4 linked regions of the Homo sapiens genome follow. The protein of the gene in region 4 purifies or fractionates together with the protein of the main gene of each other region. This does not show direct contact. Each region holds a gene or a part of one and is shown on either strand. Other genes may lie near its edges. The genes, in order: FAM120A, SAFB2, ELAVL2 and APOBEC3D.

Evidence for each region.
Region 1: the proteins of APOBEC3D (region 4) and FAM120A purify together in Homo sapiens (affinity purification with mass spectrometry; 2 studies listed by BioGRID and IntAct, with this or other methods). This does not show direct contact.
Region 2: the proteins of APOBEC3D (region 4) and SAFB2 purify together in Homo sapiens (affinity purification with mass spectrometry; 2 studies listed by BioGRID and IntAct, with this or other methods). This does not show direct contact.
Region 3: the proteins of APOBEC3D (region 4) and ELAVL2 purify together in Homo sapiens (affinity purification with mass spectrometry; 2 studies listed by BioGRID and IntAct, with this or other methods). This does not show direct contact.

What each region holds. Positions count from the first base shown.
Region 1 is NC_000009.12:93,446,816-93,454,715, reverse strand, and holds the start of FAM120A (constitutive coactivator of PPAR-gamma-like protein 1), read right to left. Parts: upstream 3,032-7,900; 5' UTR 2,801-3,031; coding exon 2,327-2,800; coding exon of another isoform or gene 2,007-2,326; exon of another isoform or gene 1,115-2,006; intron 1-1,114. Other genes in the region: uncharacterized protein FAM120AOS, read left to right, coding at 2,007-2,569, 4,117-4,237, 7,019-7,105. UniProt on the Homo sapiens protein: Component of the oxidative stress-induced survival signaling. May regulate the activation of SRC family protein kinases. May act as a scaffolding protein enabling SRC family protein kinases to phosphorylate and activate PI3-kinase.
Region 2 is NC_000019.10:5,586,467-5,591,782, reverse strand, and holds the end of SAFB2 (scaffold attachment factor B2), read left to right. Parts: coding exon 1-35; intron 36-1,374; coding exon 1,375-1,505; intron 1,506-3,802; coding exon 3,803-3,915; intron 3,916-4,015; coding exon 4,016-4,082; coding exon of another isoform or gene 4,083-4,086; exon of another isoform or gene 4,087-4,087; intron 4,088-4,383; coding exon 4,384-4,540; 3' UTR 4,541-4,784; downstream 4,785-5,316. UniProt on the Homo sapiens protein: Binds to scaffold/matrix attachment region (S/MAR) DNA. Can function as an estrogen receptor corepressor and can also inhibit cell proliferation.
Region 3 is NC_000009.12:23,823,228-23,830,872, forward strand, and holds the start of ELAVL2 (ELAV-like protein 2), read right to left. Parts: upstream 3,014-7,645; 5' UTR 2,579-3,013; intron 1-2,578.
Region 4 is NC_000022.11:39,031,104-39,033,792, forward strand, and holds the end of APOBEC3D (DNA dC->dU-editing enzyme APOBEC-3D), read left to right. Parts: intron 1-590; coding exon 591-870; intron 871-1,094; coding exon 1,095-1,213; 3' UTR 1,214-2,174; downstream 2,175-2,689.

The sequences.
Region 1 (7,900 bases), on a different chromosome or scaffold from region 4:
AACATTGTACTACCCTCAGGGACCAAGGAAGTACATAGGGTTGTTTTCCTTTTCTTAAAATAGCCCCAGAATTATGTTTGCTTTTTATAGCTTTTTAAATCTCTCTTGTCACTTCTTGCTATTAATGGTGCTCCTGCCTCTGGCAGACTCTCCTCTTCATCCTCTTCTCAAGCTGAGTTTAGAAAATAGATAACCAAGCTTGTTAGAATTACATATGAAAAGAGGCCAGTCCATGAGTGAGAGAGCTTAAAGGATTCTTCAGTGAGGAAAGCAAAAGCACCCCCCTACACCCGCCAACCCCCCACATCACTGTACCCAAACTTCCTGACATCTTGCTTGGTTGCTGAGAAATTTCTAGTAGCTAAATCTCTTAGGCACTTTTCAAAAAGGTAAGGTTGCCAGCTAAGAGACCACCAAGTAATTGAGTTATTACAATATTCATTTTGTGCAATTCGCACTATAATATGACCCTAGGTCAATAATTAAAAGCTTAGCAAAAGCAAAATACAGACAAAATTATCCCATTATCCCGTGTCCAGAAACCTAAGTGAAAAAGACGATCTTAAATGGAGCTTAAATCTAGTTTCCTAACACTGACACATTGGTCTGAATTCTGAGCACCTACTAGGTGTGCGAGGCATTCAAAGGGGTGCAAAGATAAAGAAACTGTAGAATTAAAAAGAACTCAACAGTTCTTTAAAGATACAGTGACCATATGCATACATACTGATTCTAATCCTAAGTAATATTCACAGTGTTCCCTTGAAAGTCGCTTGACTAGTTAAGTAGAGAGCTGTGCGGTTACCAAAGGCAAGTCAGTGCAGCTCATCCTGTCTTTTAAGTAGTCTTTTCCATCTCTGAACAAGACTAAACTATGAACACTTTTACGCTCTATTAGGGAGATGGATCGCTTCAGACAAATGGCAGCACCTTACTTCCCTGAGCGCCCCAGGCTCCGATTCAGAAATTAAAAGGCAGGCACTTCCTCTCACCCGAACTTCCCTGAGGAATGGCAGCTGTGTGTCTGCCAGGCGCAGGGGCCAATCGGGACTCTGCCGGCCGCCTCCACCCACGACTTAAACACCATCTCACCAATTGCAACCGGATCGTGGGTGGGACTTCCGCTATCATTTTAGGCTTAACTACCACCATCTCCTCGCGGGCAGTGGGGGCAACCGCGAAGACAGAATTTCACAAACTTTCAGCTCCAGCAGTTTCAAGGAAATGTCAAATGACAAGATGGAAGACCGAGTGTCAAGAGCTAAGACAACAAAAAGGCCCCCAAAATTTGTTTTCAAGAAAACCAATGAAAAAAGCAAGCAATCAGAACGTGAAGTCCAGGATCATGGATGTGCTTATCTTCACAGTCACTGCTGGGTCCTGAAGTTCTCCTCTGGCCCAGTGCCAGCTGCGAAGCCCTCTGCCAAAGGGCCAGAGGAGGCCGGTGATATAGAGCTCTGATTACCCACCCGTCAGGGCACCGCTGAAGGTCACTGAATACTTACTGTGCACCCGAAAAATAAATCCTGCGAGTTCACGCCCGCGTAGTTCGCCCCCTGATTTTGAGCGACTCCTTTCGCATGGGATCTACAAAACCGAACTGCCTTAAAGACCTCTTTCACACGGACGTGAAGTCACAGAACTGACAAAATCCCATCCTGTCAAAGTGCACGGGTCTTTGAAATCTAACACAAAAAGCCATAGAAAGATTCTCTAAACACCCTGTACTAAGAGGAACACGGACAGGGCACTGCGTTCTGAAGTAGAGGCCAGGGCACTGGCCCTTAGACACGTCTCGCTGTCACCGGGCTAACAACATTGGCAAGGGCGGCGGCAGCAGCACTGATATTTGCAGCCCCCAAGGGCTCTGGCGAAACCCCCTCTATTACTCTGTATCCTGCCTGCTTCCAAGATGAACCTGTTGCTGGGAAAGAACAGGCTAAATTAGAAAAGGGAGTATTTTGTCAAAGTTGAAGGTGAGTGATAGCCTGCCCGCCTCAAATAGGATGGGAAAAACTAAGGATATTGGGGATGATGACACTGTCGCCTCCGAATTCTGGTCCGGGGCTCTCTCCCAGCCCTCAAGTGTCCCCACGCGGCCGCGGACCCCGAACAGGGACAGCTGGAGACGGGCTTGGGCAGCGCGCGGCCTGCACCCGCGGCCATCCATCTTGCAGCCCGGCCCGGCCAGGCTATCCCGGGCAAGGGCTGGGGGAACTCGCTGCCCCCAGCGCCGCCACGGCCGGGCGACATTCTGCGCCCTGGGAAGGGGGATAGGGGTGCGGCGCGGCCCCGGTCCCCGGCCCGCCCGGATCCCCGGCCTCACCTTGACGTGGAAGCGGATGAGCGCCAGGCGGATGCAGTGGGCCATGCAGACGGGCGGCAGGAACCAGACCTTTGGCGGCGGGGTGCCCTTGTTCTGGACATGGCTGACGATCTGCTGTGCCGTCTGGCGCTCGTTGCCCTGCCGCTTGACCCACTCGTGCAGCCGGGCCTTCTCGAGCGCGCCGTTGAAGAAGACGAAGAGCTCGATGTTGCCGCCGAAGCAGGCCTTGGCCAGCGCCGCCAGGTAGCCAAGCATGTGGTTCCACTGGCCGCCGCTGACCCAGTCGGTGTAGAAGCCGCCGTAGAGGCGGTGCAGGCAGTTGTCGGCGTCCACCAGCAGGCGCAGCGGGGTCTGCGGGGGCCGCTGCCGCCCGCCGCCCACCAGGCTGCCCCGGGCCAGCTTCTGCAGCTCCACCGGCACCACGGCGCTCGGGCAGTGCTTCTCGATGTAGTCCTGGAAGCCCTGCACGCCCATGGCGGCGGCGGGGGCGCGGGCGCGGGTGCGGGCGGGGGGCGGCGGGGCCGGGGGTGGTGGGGCCGTGGCGCGCGGGCGGGCTGGCGGGCGGGGGCGGCGGCCTCTAGGGGGGACTGGGGCGGGTCGGGGGCGCGCTCATGGCCGCCGCGGCCGCCATGTGCTGCCGCCTCCCAGGGCCATGTCTGGGGAGGGACCTGCCGCCGCCGCCGCTGCCGCCGCTGCGAGGCCGAGGCCGAGGCCGAGGCTGAGGGCCGGGGCGGGGCGGGCGGGCGGCGCTGACGTAGCGGACCCGCCCGGCGCGGACGCCGCCCAGGCCCGCCGGCTAGCAGGCGGAAGAGGCGGCGCCGGCGGGACGCGGCTCGGGGCTCCCGGAGGCGGCGGCGGAGGCGGAGGCCCGGAGTTGGGCCGGGACGGGATCCGGGAGGCTTCTGAGCCGGAGCAGGCAGCGCCTGGAGGCCAGAGGCCGTTCGCCCGCCTCAGGCCGGTCGGCCGCCGCTCCCCTCCCCTGCGCCCTGTTCCCGGCAGGGCCAGAGAGGCCGCCGCCTCCGCCCGGTGGTTCTCGGGCGAAGGGAAGCCGCGAAGCAGGTCCTGGGGAAGAGCTCGCCTGCTCCTGAGGGAAGCAGCGATAAGATGGCGCTTTGAAGGGGAGCCGAGGCCGAGTCACTCTGTTCGTCGGGACGCCGCCTTTCTAACGCCGCCGTCGGCTCGCACCACTCTGGGCCTGCTGCCCACACTGACTGCGGGGTCCGGGAGAGCGGGATGCTGGCCGGCCGCGCCTGGCTTCTTGGAAAGAGCAGGAAGGAGCGCGAGAATGCAGTTCCGCGGCAGGTGCTCATCCCAGCAGCTTCGGGCTCTCGGTTGTGGTTTTTACACCTATGACAAATGACATGGCCAAACACACCATAATGTCTGAAGGTACAGGTAGCCCTAAGCGCCTGCTCGTCACGGAAGAGACTGTCTTGAGAGCACAGGTCTGTTGCAGCGTGGGAAAGCCTGCGTTACCACTGCGCAATGGCTAGACTGAAACGTGCGCCTTTGCAGTGGATCTCCCAGCTCTTCTGAGGGAGAGGGATTTGAATCTTGTTGCTTTAGTAGCATCTTCTGGAAGGAGGTCGTTTACGTAAATTCTGTTCCAAAGCTCTGTCGTAACTGCTTCTAAAATGAGGTTGATACTGTATGTATATTAGGCTTGCATAAAACATTTTCAAAAAGAGATTAATGTCTTTCAGAATATAAATTTAGAAACCCAGCACTCTAAAAGTTTTAAAGTGCCGCTTTTACTTACCTTCATCTCTCCATTTGTTCTTTTTTTGGAGAAACCTCTGTAGAGGAGCAGGATGCAACCGACAGGCTGTGGCCGGACAGCTGCTGCCCAGCACATGGAGCCTGCACGCGCACGGTTTGGCCAAAGAAGCCCCCATACTCCCGGTGAAAAAGGCAAGTTGGATTTTTCTGCTTTCTTTTCTGATACCCACCTCAAATGCAAGCCAGTATCATACGTACATAAATTAAATGCTGCTGGTATTTTAGGAAGTTACATTTAAAAGCAGGCTGACAAGTTATGCCACTCACCTATGCATAAAATTAGTCACAAAGCCAGGATGACATGTTATCTAAAAATAATACAGGCCAGGTGCGGTGGCTCACGCCTGTAATCCCAGCATTTTGGGAGGCCGAGGCGGGTGAATCATTTGAGATCAGGAGTTCGAGACCAGCCTGGCCAACATGGTGAAACCCCGTCTCTACTAAAAATGCAAAAATTAGGCGGGCCTGGTGGTGTGTGCGCCTGTAATCCCAGCTACTTGGGAGGCTGAGGCAGGAGAATTGGTTGAACCCGGGAGGCGGAGGTTGCAGTCAGCGGAGATGGCACCACTGCACTCTCTAGCCTGGGCAAAAAGCGAGATTCCGTCTCAAAAATAAATAAATAAATAAAAGAAATAATACAGTTAGCCATTAAATAACGAGCAAAATCCAGAAATATCCAAATTTGCTTTTATAACCCAAGGCAGGTTCACAAGGTGAGGAGTAGTAGTTTTTAATCACTCGTATTTTCATTTGTAGCATTGCATTCCGTGTATTTACCTTTTCTTTAAACACTCTTGCTTTTAATTTTTAAAAATGCATTAGTGCGGCCGGGCGTGGTGGCTCACGCCTGTAATCCCAGCACGTTGGGAGGCCGAGGCGGGCAGATCACGAGGTCAAGAGATGGAGACCATCCTAGCCAACATGGTAAAACCCCATCTCTACTAAAAACACAAAAATTAGCCGAGCGTGGTGGTGCGCACCTGTAGTCCCAGCTACTCGGGAGGCTGAGGCAGGAGAATTGCTTGAACCTGGGAGGTGGAGGTTGCAGTGATCACGCCACTGCACTCCAGACTGGCAACAGAGCGAGGCTCCATCTCAAAAAAAAAAAAAAAAAAAAATGCCAGTGCCAGTATCTGGAATTCTGGAAATAAATTTATTTTCACCTTATTATATTGTAGAGGTCTAAGGTTCTGGAGTCAGGCCCCCAATATCCATCTTATGATAAGTCTGTGCCCTTGCAAAAATATTTACCTTATTGAACCTTGGATTTTATCATCTGTAAAATCAACATATTAATAGTACTTAACCTCCCAGGTTGTTATAAGGATTAAATCAGATAACCTGTGTGCCTGCCACACAACAAATGCTCAATAAATGTTGGCTTTTGTAGTTATTTCCAGAAACTGTATTTGTCTAGACTTATACTCGAGAACATAGACCAGTTATTGTACTTTTGGAAAGTTTAAAATTCATTATTGTATCATAACACATAAAACTCAATTCTTAGTTGCCCTATTTAGCTTTGTGTTCTTTAAAAAAAAAAAAAAAAAACTTTATTTATTGAGTAGCTATTGATGGTGGGCAAAATGTTTAGCTGACAAACACTTATATACTCTGCATCCTTAACTCAAATTCAGGGGTTGGTTGAAGTTAAATTGCTTAAATATTGAGGTAAAAATAAACATCTGGGCCGGGCGCAGTGGCTCACGCCTGTAATCCCAGCACTTTGGGAGGCTGAGGTGGGCGGATCACAAGGTCAGGAAATCCAGACCATCCTGGCTAACACGGTGAAACTCCGTCTCTACTAAAAAAAATACAAAAAAAAATTAGCCGGGCGTGGTGGCAGGCGCCTATAGTCCCAGCTACTCAGGAGGCTGAGGCAGGAGAATGGCGTGAACCCAGGAGGCGGAGCTTGCAGTGAGCCGAGATCACGCCACTGCATTCTAGCCTGGGCAACAGAGCGAGACTCCATCTTAAAAATAAAAAATAAAAAATAAACATCTGTATTTAAAATTTAATAAAAAGTTATGTCTTCTTGGAGGTTACAATATGACAACTAATGGTTGGGGACTTTTTCTTTTTTTATTTTGTATTTATTTTATTTATTTTTTCTCCCCCAAGATGGAGTCTTGCTCTGTTGCCCAGGCTGGAGTACAATGATGTGTTCTCAGCTCACTGCAACCTCCCTCTCCCAGGTTCAAGTGATCTCCTGCCTCAGCCTCTGGAGTAGCTGGGATTACAGGTACACACCATCACACCTGGCTAAGTTTTGTATTTTTAGTAGAGACGGGGTTTCACCATGTTGGCCAGGCCAGTCTCGAACTCCTGACTTCAAGTGATCCACTTGCCTCTGCCTCCCAAAGTGCAGGGATTACAGGCATGAGCTACCGCGCCCAGCCTAATATCATTAATTAATATTTTACTTAGGTGAGGTATCTAACCACCAACAATAACAGATGAGTTTCCAGTTTTTCAAACAAGGTAATAAGAGACCTTAATGCTGCCCATGTAATCATTAGCAGATGTTGGGAGACCAGCAGACTGGAGCTAAGCAGGGAGTCTGCGATCATGGAAGAGAGCAAATTAATCCACACTAGGGATTCTAACCTATAATGTTTACCTAGCACCAGCCCTGTTAATTAATTGTCAATTTAAATTACCCAGAAGAACACACACATCTGTAGGCCTGCTTCATAAATGGTAGATCAGTAACTGACCACACTGCAGCCGTGTATCGGCAGTTGAGTTTTTTGGTCTTCAGGCTCTGCTATCTCTCCAGTACTATGAGTTATCAGCAGTAGCAGAGGGTAGGAGAGCTCCACAGAGATCAATATTCGGACTCTGGAGACCATGACAAAATACATTTCATATTCCAAACTAATATATAAACTACCTTTTTTTTTTTCTTTTCAGATTTCCAGAAGCTGTTCTGTCAATAACAAAGTCTCAAAGAAAACCACAAAACCACCAACACTAAGATCATTCTTGAGTCCAATTTGAAAAACTAGGGTCAAGTTCTGCAGAGGCATTGAAAGGACAAGAAACCACCCTGATACCCATCGTGTGAGGGAAAATGCTCTATTCACCATTCCTCAGCTTCTGCTTCTGGTTTCAGAGTTCTCTCTATATTGGAGGGTGTTTTAAAGCTAGAGTGGTCTTTATCCACTTTTATTAACACATCTGAATGTGAAGGTCAAGAGAGGAAAGTGATATGTCCTAAGTCAGAGTAGAGTCAACAAGAAAATAAGACAAACAGCGACTGAGCCCCTGGTGTATACTGGGCATTGGCCAGCTACTGGGGATATGGAGATGAAGAAAACATAACCCTTCTTCAAGGAGCCCAACCTACCAAGGTAGACAGACATATAGACAAATAGATACTTGCATAGAAAAAAAGAGGAAAAGGGGATCAGTGTGACCTGTGTAACTAAGTACCCTATAAACCCTCCTGCAACAGATCATATTGCCCTTTATAGTGGGGATGGTAATCCCATCTGAATTCCACAGGTACTTTGCAGTCATACCACACCCATGTGTCTGTCGGTCCTGACTGTACCATTTATAAACAGCTTCACTTTCAGCAGTTCTCAGCCCTCTTAAGCTAGGGTCATTGTCAGTAGGGATACTGCTTCATAAGCACCAGCAGAACACCAAAGGAGACCATATGGGTGAAAGCAACCAGCACTGCCCTGGCGCTTCATAGGTTCTTAGAGTTTTTATCTTTTACTTTCAGTCTAACACAGCACTGCCTGCTTTTTGTTTTTGTTGCTTGGTTTGTTTTTTTCTTACCGTGTT
Region 2 (5,316 bases), on a different chromosome or scaffold from region 4:
CGAGGCCAATGATGGGAGACCACCGGGATGGGCAGGTGAGTAGAGCCCCGATGCCAAGCCCTGGGGCCACTGTACTGCTGTGCAGGCATAGCGGACCATTTCTAGCCAGGCGGCCGCTTGATCCCAGAGAGGTGGCAACCAAGTCAGCACGTGTGGCGGGTATGCAAGTGTGGGTTCTGGCCAGCGACTAGAAGTACAAATATTTAGTCGGACGTGGTGGCTCATGCCTGTAATCCCAGCACTTTGGGAAGCTGAGGTGGGTGGATCACAAGGTCAGGAGTTCAAGACCAGCCTGGCCGACATGGTGAAACCCTGTCTCTACTAAAAATACAAAAAATTAGCCAGGCATGGTGGCGAGTGCCTGTAGTCCCAGCTACTCGGGAGGCTGAGGCAGGAGAATCGCTTGAACCCGGGAGGCGGAGGTTGCAGTGAGTCGAGGTCGCACCATTGCACTCCAGCCTGGGCAACAAGAGCAAGACTCCGTCTCAAAAAAAAAAAAAAAAAAAAAAAGCGCAAATATTTGATTGTTTTGTAATGCTCAAGTTTCTGTCATTTTCAAATATGTTGGGCTTGTTCTTCATTGTATCCGGTAGAAACCTCATGTGTCTCTTCATTGTCCACTTGCTCAGGGAGCCTTTGGGTCTTAGTGCCTGTGGGGTCCCCCAAGAACCCAAATGGTGGTTGTCGTTTAGCCCACATGTGCCAGGGTCGGGGGGATGGGGGAGCCCGGGCTTCCCCATGTTTCAAGTCCGTGCTTGGTGGGCACGGGGGGCTGAAGACCACAAGAATGGTCCCTGAGTCTCTGTGGTGCCATGCGGGTGCCCCGTGCGTGGTGGCAGGGTGTGAGTTCTGAGAAAGCAGCAGCCTGGTGGAGAGGTGGGAGGTGGGCGGCAGAGTAATGGCCTGTAACAGCAGGCAGCACCCGCCTGCTTCCTGGCTGCTGGCTGCTCCGTGCAGAGTTGGTTGGCCAGGGAGGCCGGAATTGTGGCCCTGCCAGAGCACAGGGGGGCTGACCCACCCGAGGGCCCTCCTGTTATCGGAAAGGAGGCGGCGCCCAACTTCTCAGGGAAGACAGGGTTTGGTGACGTCTTAGTGGATCTTGAGCAGAGCTGTTGAGGGCAGTAATGCCAGGGTGCCCTGGCTCCTGGGGCAGCTCAGGTGGGGCAGTGATGCAGCTGTAGGGGTGCGAGGAGGGGAGCCAGGGAGCAGAGGGTCAGTGAAGCAGGGCCCAGCAGGGCTGAGACTGCACCCTTCAGTCCTCTCTCAGCTCCGCCCCACCTGCCACCCTGGGGCCTGCAGTGGACAGGCCTTCCGGAAGGTGGGCCTATGTGGGTGACATGGTCAGTGTCACCCTGTTCCTCTCCTGCCTTCCAGCACTATGGAGATGACCGCCATGGCCACGGAGGACCCCCAGAGCGCCACGGCCGGGACTCCCGTGATGGCTGGGGGGGCTACGGCTCCGACAAGAGGCTGAGTGAAGGCCGGGGGCTGCCCCCTCCCCCCAGGTTAGTGGGTGAGCCCCAGCCGGGTGGGGAGCATCTGTCCTAACCTGGGAAAAGGTTGGTGCCTGGCCAGGCACGTCCCCAAGGTTTGATTCAGCTAGGGGAGCTTTAGGATGGGCTACCAGGGGTCCTGCCATTTGAAACCCCTGACTCAGAAAGTCCAGGTTCTCAAGAAGAAAGCATAGAACAGGCTTTCAGGGATGGAGCTGTCCAGGTCGCCCAGAATGGCCCATCCCCATTCTTGAGCTGGGGGTCGCCTGCAGTTGTGAATGTCTCGATCATGGGCTGCGTACACACTGGGAGAGACAGCGCTGAAGCTCTTAGTCCTGCCCCGTCCGTGGTAGAGCAGCCTCGCCCCTGCCTCCACGTTGCCTCTTGACACGTGTCTTCCTCGGGTTTTTTCTCTGACCCCCAGTTGGTCTGGGGTGGATCTTCTCAACCCTATCCTGCCTATTAGAATCACTTAGGAGGACCCTCCACCCAGGACTCAGGGCTGAGGACACTGGGCCAGGTCCTCCACAGGTGTCCAAAGCCACCTTCACCAGCACTGCAGTGGGGGTGCTGTTCTGAGCCTTGTCAGCATTGGTGGGGGGCAGGGCTTGTCTGGGAGGACTCTGGGTGCCTCTCTAGTTTCTTTGGCCAGCTGCAGTCACCCCTGCCTGTTTGTCCTGTTGCCGTCTGGGCTGGCCGTGAGGAGGCTGGTGGCAGGACTGCTTTGCGGCTGCTGCCCTGCTTTCCTCTGTGAGCCGAGTGTCCTGTCTTGTCTCCAGCCCTGGCCCAGGGCTGCCTCGGACCCTGCCCAGCGCCACAGGGTGGGTTTTGGCCCCCTGTGCTCCCCCGTTCCATCCCTCCCTCCGCGCTGAGAGGCACTTCCAGCTCTGCCAGGGACTTTGACTCGGTGCTGTGCCGAGTGTCCCAGGACACCCGAAGCTTCTCCTGAATCTCTGGGCAGCACAGACGGTGGCAGTGCTCTGATCAGTTGGTGTGAAGTGTTCTCTCCTGTGAGACTTCATTAGCATTCCTGTCCTGTCGCTTGCTGGGTGTTATGGTAAATACCTCGGGAGTGTAAACGGGAAACTCACCCATGGTGAGCAGCGGCTGGGCGCCATCGGGTCACCGAGGGCAGGTTCCACACGGGAGCTTTCCGCTCCCTCCAGGGCGGTATTGCACTTGCCTGGCAGTGCGCGCTGGGGGCTCTGGTGGCCCCTCTCGGGCCTGTGGGCTGGCTCACTTGGCCTGACTGTCACTGCATCCGGCAACCCACAGCAGGCAGGCACTCGTGCAGATGGGTCTGGCTGCTTTCCTGCACGGCCACTGTGACTGCTTGGCCACTTGGGACTCAGGACACTGGACTCGGATTTTCATCTCCCAGAGTTTGTCTGAAACTTTAAACAAATAGCTTTCTTTAAGTATAGTTCACACGACACACACTTCCCGTTTCACGTGTGCAGTCAGTGGAGGTTTGCGTGTACGTGGATCTGTTTAGCCATCCCCACGGCTGATTCTGAAGCATTTTCATCACGTCAAAAGAAACCCTGCCCCTTTTAGCAGCTGCACCCTCCCCCCTGCCCTTGGTAGCCACAGGTCCCTTTCTGGCTCTGGATTTGCCGTCTTGAGTCATTTCTTGGCCTGCGCGGTGTGCCTGCTGGGCCTGGCTTCTCCCTAAGCCTTGGGTATTCAGGGCTCATCTCCACATGCTGCCTGGGCCAGCGCTTCCTTCCTAGTTAGGGCTGAACATTCCATGGTCCAGACACACTACATAGTGTTATCTGCTCATCAGTTCATGGGTGTTGGGGTCCTTCTCCCTTTGGCTGTTAGGAATCCTGCCGCTAGGAACATTCATGCACAGATGTCTTTGGCCATGTTTTCATTTCTGGCAGGTAGGAATGGGTTTGCTGGGTCATGGTAATTCTGCGCTTAACTTTTTGAAGAACCACCAAACTTTTCCACAGTGGCCACACCATTTTACATTTCCACCAGCAGTGGACAAGGGTTCTTCCCTTTCCTCGCACCCTCCACGGTGTGTGTTATTGTGTGATTCTAGCATCCCAGCCAGGGGGAGGTAGCATCTCGGTGTGGCTCGGATTGGCATTTCTGGGTGGCGTTGAGCACCTTCTCACGTGCTTACTAGCACATCTGTCTTTGGGGAAATGTCCCTTCCCTTGATTTGCCCACTTGACATGCAGCCCTTGTTGTGTGGCATGACCCACCATGCAGCTGAGGTCAGGGTGGGTGCGCCTGCTGCCGACACAACCCTGGAGGCTCATTAGATGGCTGCATGTCTTTTTCTTTTGGCAAAGGGGTGGCCGTGACTGGGGAGAGCACAACCAGCGGCTAGAGGAGCACCAGGCACGCGCCTGGCAGGGTGCCATGGACGCAGGCGCGGCTAGCCGGGAGCACGCCAGGTGGCAAGGTACGGGGCTGGCTCCAGGGACGAGGGTGGCTGTGGCCCCCACATGTGTCCAGGGGCTTCCCCAGGAACGGAGTGTTTGCAGACCCTTCTTCTCTTCTAGGTGGCGAGAGGGGCCTGTCTGGGCCCTCGGGGCCGGGGCACATGGCAAGCCGCGGTGGAGTGGCGGGGTAAGGTGTGTCGTCCGTGGAGGACGGTGGTTCACTCCTGCTCCTCACTTCCTCTCCCTTTTTTGCATGTTTGATCAGCTGGCTGGGTTGGATGTTATGAAAACAAAGCAAAAAGCAGCTCTTTGCAATTTATGCAAATAACGCTCTTGAGTTACCTGGAATACAATGTGCGATGATGATTTTTCTCACCTGGAAAAAAAACCCAAGCGCTCTAAAGGCTGCGGGACCGTTACTGAACCCATGTTACGATGAAAACGCTGAGCACTTCAAGGGGAAAAAAATTGTCTGACTTTGTTCCTAGGCGAGGCGGCTTTGCACAAGGTGGACATTCCCAGGGCCACGTGGTGCCAGGTGGCGGACTGGAAGGTGGCGGAGTGGCCAGCCAGGACCGGGGCAGCAGAGTCCCTCACCCACACCCTCATCCCCCCCCGTACCCCCACTTCACCCGCCGCTACTAAGTCCCACTCGCTGCGAGTTTTCGGGTGGGCAGACGCACTGTTGAATCTGGTAGCCAGGGTTCCCTCGAACTTGGGGGATCTTTTTAAAAGCAAAGTAAATCCTGCCACCATGTTGTAGCTCAATACAATGTGAACTCACTTTTTTTTTTTTTTTAAATAAATGTGTTCTTGTTCTGCCATTTTTAAATCAAGGTTTCTGTTAACGAGGCATTCCATTTTCCATTAATAAAGTTTACCATTCGCAGTCTTGCGTGCGCGTGCACATGCGTGAGTCCTGGTGGCCGTAGAGCTCGGGATGGGACCAACCCTGGGCGCAGTGGTGTGACCACATGGTGACTGTTGGCTCTGCCAGGTGCTGCCAAAGTCTTTTGCCTGCATCATCCTGCTGAGTTGTCATAACCACCTCAGGAAGTGGGCTGTCCGGGTTCCCATCATGGGATGAAACTGAGGCTGGGGAGTCAGCCCATGGGAACTAGGAATTCTTCAGGGGGTGCTGTGCACCATAGGGCCCTCAGACCAATCCCTTTACCCCGAGCCTGTCTCTGCGTGGGTAGTGGTGAGGGCGTGCCAGGCCCTGGGGAGCCCTCCCCCTGCCACCTCAGTCTGGGGCTGTGTCCCATGCTGGTGTGTGGTGGGCTCTGTCAGGGAGGGTCCGTGTGTGGTGGGCCCGCCCCTCCCCTGGCTGCCAAGTGTGTCCTGCTCAGTGTCTGCTGCCAGCAGCTGGTTAGGAGTGGGATGGCGCTGACTCGGTGATGGGCCCACGTGGTAGAACTGGT
Region 3 (7,645 bases), on a different chromosome or scaffold from region 4:
GTAAATAGTTAATTATAATATTCTCATCCCAGGCACGCGGGATTGCTAAAAATGCCTATTTCCAAAACGTTAGGCGAAAATGGGCCTACTTAATTTGTCAATCCAAACCTAAAACTCTTAGAATGCCCTACGCCCTACTTCCTGACGCTGACTAAATTATGGGAGAGCTCTCAGAAGAGTTCCCCAAGTCTTCCAAACCACTTCTTCCTACAACCGTAGCGTTTTTTGTGAAGAGCTCCAGAACAGGTTAGCTTTATGAAGCGGGGTGCCCAAGCACTTGGTTAAAAGAGGGAACGGGGAAGAAGTGCCTGCTGTAAGACACATTCAGGCAATGACAGCAATAAGTAAGGGCGAGAGTTAAAAAATAAAATGTTAACCCCATAACAACTTCGAAACTCTCAACATATTTTTTTGCGGGCTTATCTGTTCATAGTCTGACAAATCTTTCAGATGTCCCATTTAAGAAGCCATTTTACAAGGAAGTCTTAAGGCCCAAACACATTTCCTACCCTTCTGTTCCCCAAAACACGAACACCCTTTTTCTGACCTTTAGAAACTGATTTTCAATTTGGAAAATAATTTCTTTAGTTACTATTGTCTGCTGTGTACTTTCTAAAAATTTTCATTGTAAGTCTACGTTTTATAGGTTGCAGTTAATAGTGTAGGCCTGGGAAATAAAACATTAATCTCCCTCCCACCCCCAGAGGATGGGTATAATAAATAGGGGTGCGGAGAACGGCTGAAGGTTTAGAATCTTAACCAACTGGAGTGTTTGTACATGAGAGGGGGAAGGGACAGAATCCGTGCATTTCGGGGAGAAAGTACAGAGACCTCCATCCCTGTCCAGCAGTGTTAACAGTAAATACTAAATGGTTGGCTATTTCTCTCACCCTCGCCATAATAAAACCAGACCTGCAGCCGGTAATTACGAGAAAATACCCAGTCTCGCCATCAGTTTTGCTAACCGGTACTTGAAAATGGGAAACGGGGAACTTATCCAACCTCCAATTTGTCACAGTTGTATAGCTTTCGTATTAATTCTGTACAGACGTGAAATAGGTGGGTACGTAGCAACGTGCTGGGCATAAATTAAGCAACAATGGCCACGCGAGGTCTCGTCCGCCGCGGAGCTCCAGTGGTGGGCACTGCCACCTTGCCATCCCTAGCCCCCACCGCCCTTCGCAGAGTCCAGTCCGGGAGGCTGACGGTGCGCTGGCTTTCCCAGCCGGTAGAGTGGGTGGGGTGAGGAGCAACGAGACGTTAACCCCAGCCGGCTTTGTAGCTTTTTCCCATCCTCTGCCTCTCGAGCACCACATGAGCGCTCTCACGCACACACTCACCCACACCCCCTCGTGCCAATAATTTAAACTTCTCTTAGGAAAGCCAGCAGCTTGTTCCACCACCACCACCCCTTCCGCCCTCCCCGGCCCACGAACATCCTCCCCCTTTCCCACATCTACCCTGGATCCTCTCTTTGGCAGTAGAAAGCCAAATGATTTCTCCTAAACCCTGAGAAATCACAAAAGTTAAAATGAAGCGTGTGCCTATCTGCCCAGCTTGTCATCCCCAACCATCTTTCTCCTGGCGTCAATTTAACAATAGCTATTCGAGGAAGTGGGGGCGGTAAGGAGGGGGTGAGGGCTACGTGGCCGAGTTGGCTCCTGGGGTGGCTGCGAAGCCTCGCGGCTGCAGAGGGGTTCCCCCTCTCCCCGAAGGCGAAGTCAGCCGCGTAGGACCAAGGACAGGGCTTGGAATCCACTTCCCAGCGCCCAGCACAGCGAGGCTCCCAAGCAGCCGGCACTTCATAGACACAGCTCCAAGGATCTTATTTACGCTTTTCTGAACAAAGGGAATCTCATATCCGGTACAGGCTTAAGAATTCAGCCCCAAATTGGCTATCTTCTTTTAAAACTGAATTATGATAATTGGAGTCCGTGAATCAGAGCCCGCATACAATGATGAGTTCTGACAGCTTCTAACAACCCTAGCCTCAGCCCAGCCCCAGCCCCAGCCCTCAGGCGGCATGTACTTTTTTCAGTCAACTACAACTCGCTGCCTGGTGCAGCATCTAAATTCCATCTGGCAATCCCATCTCCCCAGCACATGCTATCTGGTTAATGCAATTAAGCCTGTGGTTTTCGCTGGTCTAATCTGCCAGTCCAGGCTTCTGATTCCCCTTAATGATTGTAAAGCCTCTCCCGTCCTTCCGTTGCTGAGCCAAAGTAGAGGCATGCATCCCCAACACCCAAGTTATCACTCTCTCCCCACGAAATGAACTTCCGATCTCAATCTTGAAGCTCACTCCACATCTAACCTCCCATTGTACCCCTACTCCCCCCTGGCCACATTTACCACTTAAGTTTCTGCCATGGACATTTACGAATATTCAGTACGCTAAGCATGCGTCCACCGTCTTTTAGTCTAGCTCTTTAAAATTAAAAAAGCAGAACAGTAGCTTTGAAATGAGACAAACATGTGCAATTAACTTCATATTCTGTATTCCGCTCACTTACAGGTTTTCTGGGTTTGCCAGCGCATCGCTGCAACTAATGATTAAAGAAACCAAACCGAAACTTACCTTTCTCCCTTAAGGTTTTTGTGTATGTGTGTTTTTAAAGTAACGGTGCAGTTCTCCCAATAAGGATGAGCAAGAAGCTGCTGGATAGTTCTCTTAAGACAGCACGAAACCTAAACTGTGCTCGGCTTAAAAGAAGCAAATAAAAAGAAACGCTTTCGACCCCAAAGTCCAATGCTAAAAGAAATGGCGAAAAAAAATATGAAAGGGGAGGGGAAACTTAAAAAAGAGTTTAAAAAGACGGAGAGACTACCCTCCTATTGCCGTTCAACTAAACAAAAAGGGGCAAGAAAAACAAACCAAGGAACAAAGAAAAGAGACGAAAGAACGTTTTTTCAAAAAGACGATGTCTTTCTCCTTGTTGCTTTTTAGTAGGTCGCTACAGGAGTAAGCTGCTGCATCTCTAACTAAGAACAGAAATAGGGGGGAGGACGTCTTAAAAGGGAGGTGGACTGGACCACAGATTTATAGCACCGTATCACCAACCCCTTCTCTGCCTCCGCACTGCCGTGTGTGCAGCTGCTCTGCCAGGCTCCTATCCCGGGCAGCACGCGCGGAAGTATACGCCGAATCGCGCCACAACGTAACTTGCTCATCGCCCCAGGATCCTGATTGGTCCACACGCTTCCATTGAGGCCGCCCAGGCGGGGCCGCGTGAGACGATTGGCTATGGGCTTGTGTCACTCTCGAGAGCTCAATGGAGTCCCGTTTCAAGGTAAGTTGTGCGGGGAGGTACACTCTTAACACTGGCGGCGAAGGGAAATGCAAGAAGCAAAAAGAAATGTGGAGAGAGCAACGTGGGAGGGTTGGAACTGTACTATCAGAGTTTGCGATATGGCACGATCTCCTTTCCTCTTAAATCTTTCTGCTTCAGAAAGATTCATTTCCTTTGCCATCACTGCTGCATCTGTGGCATATTTCTTTATAACATTTAACTCTGTCCGGTATGTATGAGTCATTGAGAGCTCCCTCTCTTTGATCTGAGTGAAAGGGATGAATGTACATCCATTATTTGCCCGCATGCCTTTTTTCGATTTGTGTTCAGTACTGTATTTTGTATTAGATGTTAGGTAATTGTATGTCTTTATTTTAATATACGCATATTTCAGATTTATGTGTCCCCATGAACCCCTTTTTAAAGCATCCTTTTAAGATAAAGATGAAGTCAGAAATGCTCTCAAATAAAGCTGCACGGTTTGAATTGGCTTTCACTTCATGTTAGAATAGAAAAGTGTAGGATAAATATCCTATCCAGAAAAAGAGGTATTGAGTAGAGCTAAGGTCCTTCACTTCGAGGTGTCTAATGATTCTCAAAAAGAGCAGCTGTATATAAAACTGGAACAAGCCACTCCTCTGCATTTGCAGACAGGTACAGTCCTTGGACCACACATGTATTGCTGACAGCAAAGATAGTTGAACCTTTATCAGGGCTCTTTCTGTGAGGATTTAAGAAGTTTAACCAGAAGACCAAGTGCTATCAATGCTTCTGCTTCATAGAGGAAGACTACTTTATTACAACCCCATATTTTAACAGCATTCAGGAGACCAAAATACAGTTTTATGCATGATAATTGTTTCTTCCTCTAAGTGAAAGTGAGGTCCTCAGGATCGTCTGGATGTATAAGTAGACACAATATTCATTTGACCTACGTTCTTTTCCAGCCAGCATTTCTCTTTTCAATCTTGAAAGATAGCACCAACTTCCTAGACAGTTTTTACCATTCTTACCAGAATGTGTAAATGTAATGTACACATTACATTACACATGTAATGTGTCTTAACCAGAGGCACATGCCTTTTTGAAAGGGATTCCTTTACATATTTACAACTAGTCGCTATCTTTGAGAATGCCGGAAAAAGAAGACACAGGTAAGAGTTAGAGATTGCAAAAGGGTAGGGTGTCATGGAGGGGAATGGGACAGAAGATCCCAAAGCAAAATGACTTTGAAGTGAGGAATACAGTAAATCAGTGTTCTTTGAGAGTGTCCTTGAGTGTTGATAAATGATTAATGGTGAAAAACAGACCTGTTTATCTCCCGTGTAGCCTGTATAACAATATACGAGTTCTGTTACTTTGCATGACAATACCTGGGGCTTGAGAAAGAAGGCCTGAATCTATGTTATCTTATAATTAGTGTTTATAAAATCATGCCTTAACCTCCACCCCCAGTTTTTGTATAACAACCTCTGGAGTCTTAATTTCAACTTAAAACTATTCTCTAGACCTGGGTGAAACTCACAGCAAGAAGAAAGAAAAGCACTTTGAAGAAATGGAGTCAAGGGGGAAAAGGAAGACTCCACCCCATCTAGACTAGATGTATGAATAACAGAAGATTGGGTTTGTAGTCATCTTCCTTCAACCCCTCCCCTTGTCCCCAGCTCCATACAGAGAAATAACCTTTAAATGAATACAATTTGGGGAAAGTATAATACTGTTTGATTTCATCAGACTTACCTAGGCAGTGAATTGTCTTTCCTCCTTTTTACCATGCTCGTAGGTTAATATTGAATTAGTTGCATATGCCCATATAATTTCAGTACATTGAAGTAAATCTTTACCATTATAATTATATAAGTGCCTTCTAACTAGGTGGAAACTAATACTTTTTTTGGTGCATGTTTATATCCACAAAAAAAGACTTGTAGATAACTGTGATATCTGTAGATAACCCAAAATGATAGGGACAGGTGTGAAAAGCTGGGAGTGATATGGAGTAATAAAAATCTAGCATGTGTATTATGTAAAGAAATTACATGGAAAATAGTAAACTTGTTCATTCAAATGAAAAATGCTAAATTCTGTAGATTCAGTATTTATGGTTTTTTTTCAGCTTGGGCATAGTGACAAAATATTATTCAAAGTATTGTCATCCCTAACATGTTGTCTTTTTATGTAGGTGAGATGGACTTAAATTATTTAAAAAGTGAAAGTATCTTAAAATATTATTTTACTTCCTCATTAAAACAGATGTTTTTACATTTTAAAACTTTTAAATGGATAGATGTATTATAAGCAACATGTACTTTTTCAACTTTTAAAAATAAAAAATATTGATTACAGCCTCTTTAAAACAAGTGATATCTGGATGTAGATTTCACTTTGAAATTCATGTCTCATAGCTTGAAACATTAACAAATACATACTATCCTATGATTAATTAATGAAGCCTATGTGCAAACATCTCACTTAAGAATAAGCAAAAAATGCAATCAACCCCTTTTCACTCATAGTTTGGTAAAAGAATTATCCACAACATCTGAATTTGCATTAGAAAGTATTTAAAAGACATTTGAATATGATTAAGTTATATGAACTCTGACATATCTTCCAAGTTCCTGGCATTATTTTGAATTGCAGCAGAAAAGGGAGAGATGAAGGGAATGACTGCGAACTTGGAGCAAAAGTGTGAGGTGGATAAAGTTGCAAAAGAATAGTTCTCAAAACCGAAAAAGTCATGAATTTAATTATTTTACTGAAGTTTCTATATAAGAGAACATTTATTCATAAGAATATGCAAAGCTGTTGTGGAAAATGTCTTTTAGGATAAATAACTCCCTTACACTAGAGGTCCTGGGAGCAAGGGAAGGAGTGATTTTACATTTTGTAATAAAAGTTACTGTAAACTACTTGTAACGTTTTGTAAGTAAATAAAGAAGTTAAACTATTAAAATTAGTTTACAATGTTTGGCTTAAGGCAGTAATTTCCAACAGTAAACCTTCTTAGATGAATAAAAATGTTATGTGTTAGTATGGTGGAGTAGGGGGTTATGGTTCATACTATTGGAAATATGATAGTTTAATGTCTGCATGAGAAATACAGATATCATATATCTTGCTGATTACTCTTTTATTTATTCTTCCTAAAGTAGTATGTGGACTTGCCTTTCACCGAAAGGGGGGAAAAGTTGTGAAAATTGACACCAGTGTGAATTTATACCGTGGCAACCACGCAAGAGAAAGAGGCAGGAATTAGCACCATGGACAGAGACGAGCAGCCCTCAAATTAAGATTTGCAAAGCTTGAGACGGTGTTTTCTGTCCCTTTCTGTGAGACACGGAAACTGCGTGTCTTGGGAATGTTTTATTCCACGGGACTTTGCGGAAAAGACTGTCCTACTCCACAGAAACTCATTTATTTTGAATTAGGCTGGCATTTCTTAGGACTCAGCCATCATGACAAACTGTCAGGAGACTTAGAGCCCCGAACTCGCTGTGCACCTTCCACTGTCCTGTTTTACATACACTCCCTTGCCGGCGTGAGCTCGCCTTTCTTCAGAGTGTTCATGAAAAATAAATGCAAATCCAGGTAGTCTTCGAAAAGTCTGGTAAACCTGCTCCAGAGTTTTTAATCCTCGAATATCCCAGCTGGAATTGCAGCAAAAATGCCTGCCTGCTCACCCTTGCTCCCTCCCCCCGTTCTTCTCCCTGCTCCCTCCACCCCCTAGCAAAGGGGTAAAGCCTTTTACTGGAAGGTGAGTGACTCCCAAGACTATTTTGCGAAAGATTCTTTACATTGCAAACACTTTCGTTAGGGACAGTGCCAGGGGCGGCAGTGAGCGGGATCTCAAACATCCTTTACTTTCTCTTTACATTGTGTCTGTAAACTCCTGTTCAAGGGGGAAAGACTGTAAAGTAAGAGAGCACACTCAAGGAATATTCCCCCCGAATCCTGAGGTTGCTGTTTACACTTAAAGACACATGAATTGTTCATTTAAATGTTCTTTTAAAAAATGTAACTAGTGTCGCGGTAAATCTTTGAGACCAGCCTAGGTTGGTTCTCCCTTCCCAGCCCCCCACTTACACACACACACACACACACACACCTTTTTTTTTTTTTTCCTGGACCAATGTATGAGGTTCATTCTCCTTTAGATGATTTGCCTGCAGATATTCAGACTAAGATCTGTTGCACATGTCCCAGAGTGTCTAGGAAAATATATTTGCAGCCTCAGATCGACGATTATTTTATGTAGACGCTCCCACAAATGTCCCCAGATTTCCTTCCCCTCTTTTACTCAATAGCAACTTTTAGGAGGATAAACTCACGTTTTTCCTGAGCATAAAAAGGGA
Region 4 (2,689 bases):
TGTGGTGAGCTGAGATCGTGCCGTTGCACTCCCGCCTGTGCAACAGAGCAAGACTCCATCTCAGAAAAAAATAATAAAAAAATAAAGAGGAAGGAGAAGGATGGAATAAGGGAAACTCAATGAATAAAACGCCCTGGGGCCTACTATGCACCCAGAAAAATGAAAAGTAAAGAAATAAAATAAGGTCGTGCATGTGGTTTATGCTCATAGTCCTAGAAATTTGGTAGGCTGAGGCAGGAGGATGGCTTGAGCCCAAGATTTCGAGATCAGCCTGGGCAATGTGGCACGACTCCGTCTCCACAAAAATTACAAAAAAATTAGCCGGGCGTGGCAGCACACACCTGCAGTCCCAGCTAATCAGGAGGCTGAGGTGGGAAGATTCCTTGAGCCTGGGAGGTCAAGGCTGCAGTCAGCCCAGATCGCACCACTGCACCCCAGCTTGGGCAACAGGAGAGACCCTGTCTCAAAAATAAATAAATAAGAAAATGCCCTGGGGCTTCAGGCCTGCCCTCTTCTCCCATCGCCCCACCCCTACACTCCTCCTGCTCCTGGTCTGAGCTCCCCCTGCCCTCCTCCTCCTCCTTCCCCAGGTGGATCCTGAGACCCATTGTCATGCAGAAAGGTGCTTCCTCTCTTGGTTCTGTGACGACATACTGTCTCCTAACACAAACTACGAGGTCACCTGGTACACATCTTGGAGCCCTTGCCCAGAGTGTGCAGGGGAGGTGGCCGAGTTCCTGGCCAGGCACAGCAACGTGAATCTCACCATCTTCACCGCCCGCCTCTGCTACTTCTGGGATACAGATTACCAGGAGGGGCTCTGCAGCCTGAGTCAGGAAGGGGCCTCCGTGAAGATCATGGGCTACAAAGGTGAGACGTGGGGGGCTGAGGAGAGTGGGTGCGGGAGGGACAGCATGAGGGGCAGGTGGGTCTGCAATGCCGTGGGGCGGGGCAGTGTCCCCGGGAAGCCTGCAGGGATGGGGCCGGCGCCAGCTGCAACTGGCAGCCAGGAGACCTGGCTTGGGAGGGGAGGGCCCAGGGCCGGGAGAGAGGCTTGCTGGGCCCTCACTGCTTTCTCCTTGTTTTTTTCTCAGATTTTGTATCTTGTTGGAAAAACTTTGTGTACAGTGATGATGAGCCATTCAAGCCTTGGAAGGGACTACAAACCAACTTTCGACTTCTGAAAAGAAGGCTACGGGAGATTCTCCAGTGAGGGGTCTCCCTGGGCCTCATGGTCTGTCTCTTCTAGCCTCCTGCTCATGCTGCACGGGCCTCCCCTCCATCCTGCACCAGCTGTGCTTTTGCCTGGTCATCCTGAGCCCCTCCTGGCCTCAGGGCCATTCCATAGTGCCCCCCTGCCTCACCACCTCCTCCCCGCTCTCCCAGGCTCTTCTTGTAGAGGCTCTCCATCCACCTCCCCAGTCCTGTTCCCCCAGCCTGGGTGCCCCTAACTTGACTCTTCCCATCTCCCCAGCATAACCAAATCTTTTTTTTTTTTTTTTTTTTTTGAGACGGAGTTTCACTCTGTCGCCCAGACTAGAGTGCAATGGCTGGATCTCAGCTCACTGCAAACTCTGCTTACTGGGTTCAAGTGATTCTCCTGTCTCAGCTTCTGAGTAGCTGGGATTACAGATGCCTGCCACCACGCCCAGCTAATTTTTTTTTTTTTTTTTTTTTTTTTTTGTATTTTTAGTAGTGACTGGGTTTCACCATGTTGGCCAGGCTGGTCTTGAACTCCTGACCTCAGGTGATCTGCCCATCTCTGTCTCCCAAAGTGCTGGGATTACGGGCGTGAGCCACCCGGCTCGGCCGCACAACCAAATCTTATTAAACTCAATCTAGTCTGGCCCTGGTGACTCACGCCTTTCGGAGGCAGAGGTGGGAGAATCGCTTGAGCCCAGAAGTTTGAGACCAGCCTGGGCCACACGACAAAGCCCCATTTCTACAAAAAAAAATACCAAAAAAAAGCCAGATGTGGTGGCATGCACCTGTAGTTTAAGCTACTTGGGAGGATGAAGTGGGAGGACTGCTTGAGCCGGGGAGGTGGAGGCTGGAGTAAACTGAGATCGCGCCACAGAACTCCAGTTTGAGCAACAGATCAAGACCCTGCCTGAAAATAAATCAATAAATACACTCAACCTAAATGGATATGAATATATGTAAGTTGAAAACCAGTTTTGAGAAACATCCTTTGTAAGTTTCATCCTACGAATTGGGTCATTCATGTCCTACGCAGCTAAAACAGAGGCCAGCAGCCAGGGAGGAAAAGCAGTCAGGCCACACACCATTGCTCCCAAAATGGACTTATCTGCAAGCCTGACTCCTGAAACTGTGCATTGTACCCTGAAACCAGCTTTATCCATAGCTTCTGCCATAAATGGCTGTAAGTCTTGGACTCCTTGCTCCAAACGCAGTGACTCAGCAATGGAACCTCCCAGCTCCCAACACTTCCTAGTGCCCATGGTGGGCTTTCCCACAGGGCAAGAGAACATTTCTCCTTTTTTTTTTTGAAGTGGAGTCTCGCCCTGTCACCCAGGCTGGAGTGCAATGGCGCAGTCTCCGCTCACTGCAACCTCCACCTCTGTTGTTCAAGTGATTCTCCTGTCTCAGCCTCCCGAGTAGCTGGGATTACAGGCGTGCACCACCACACCGGGCTAATTTTTGTATTTTCAGTAAAAACGGGTTTCAT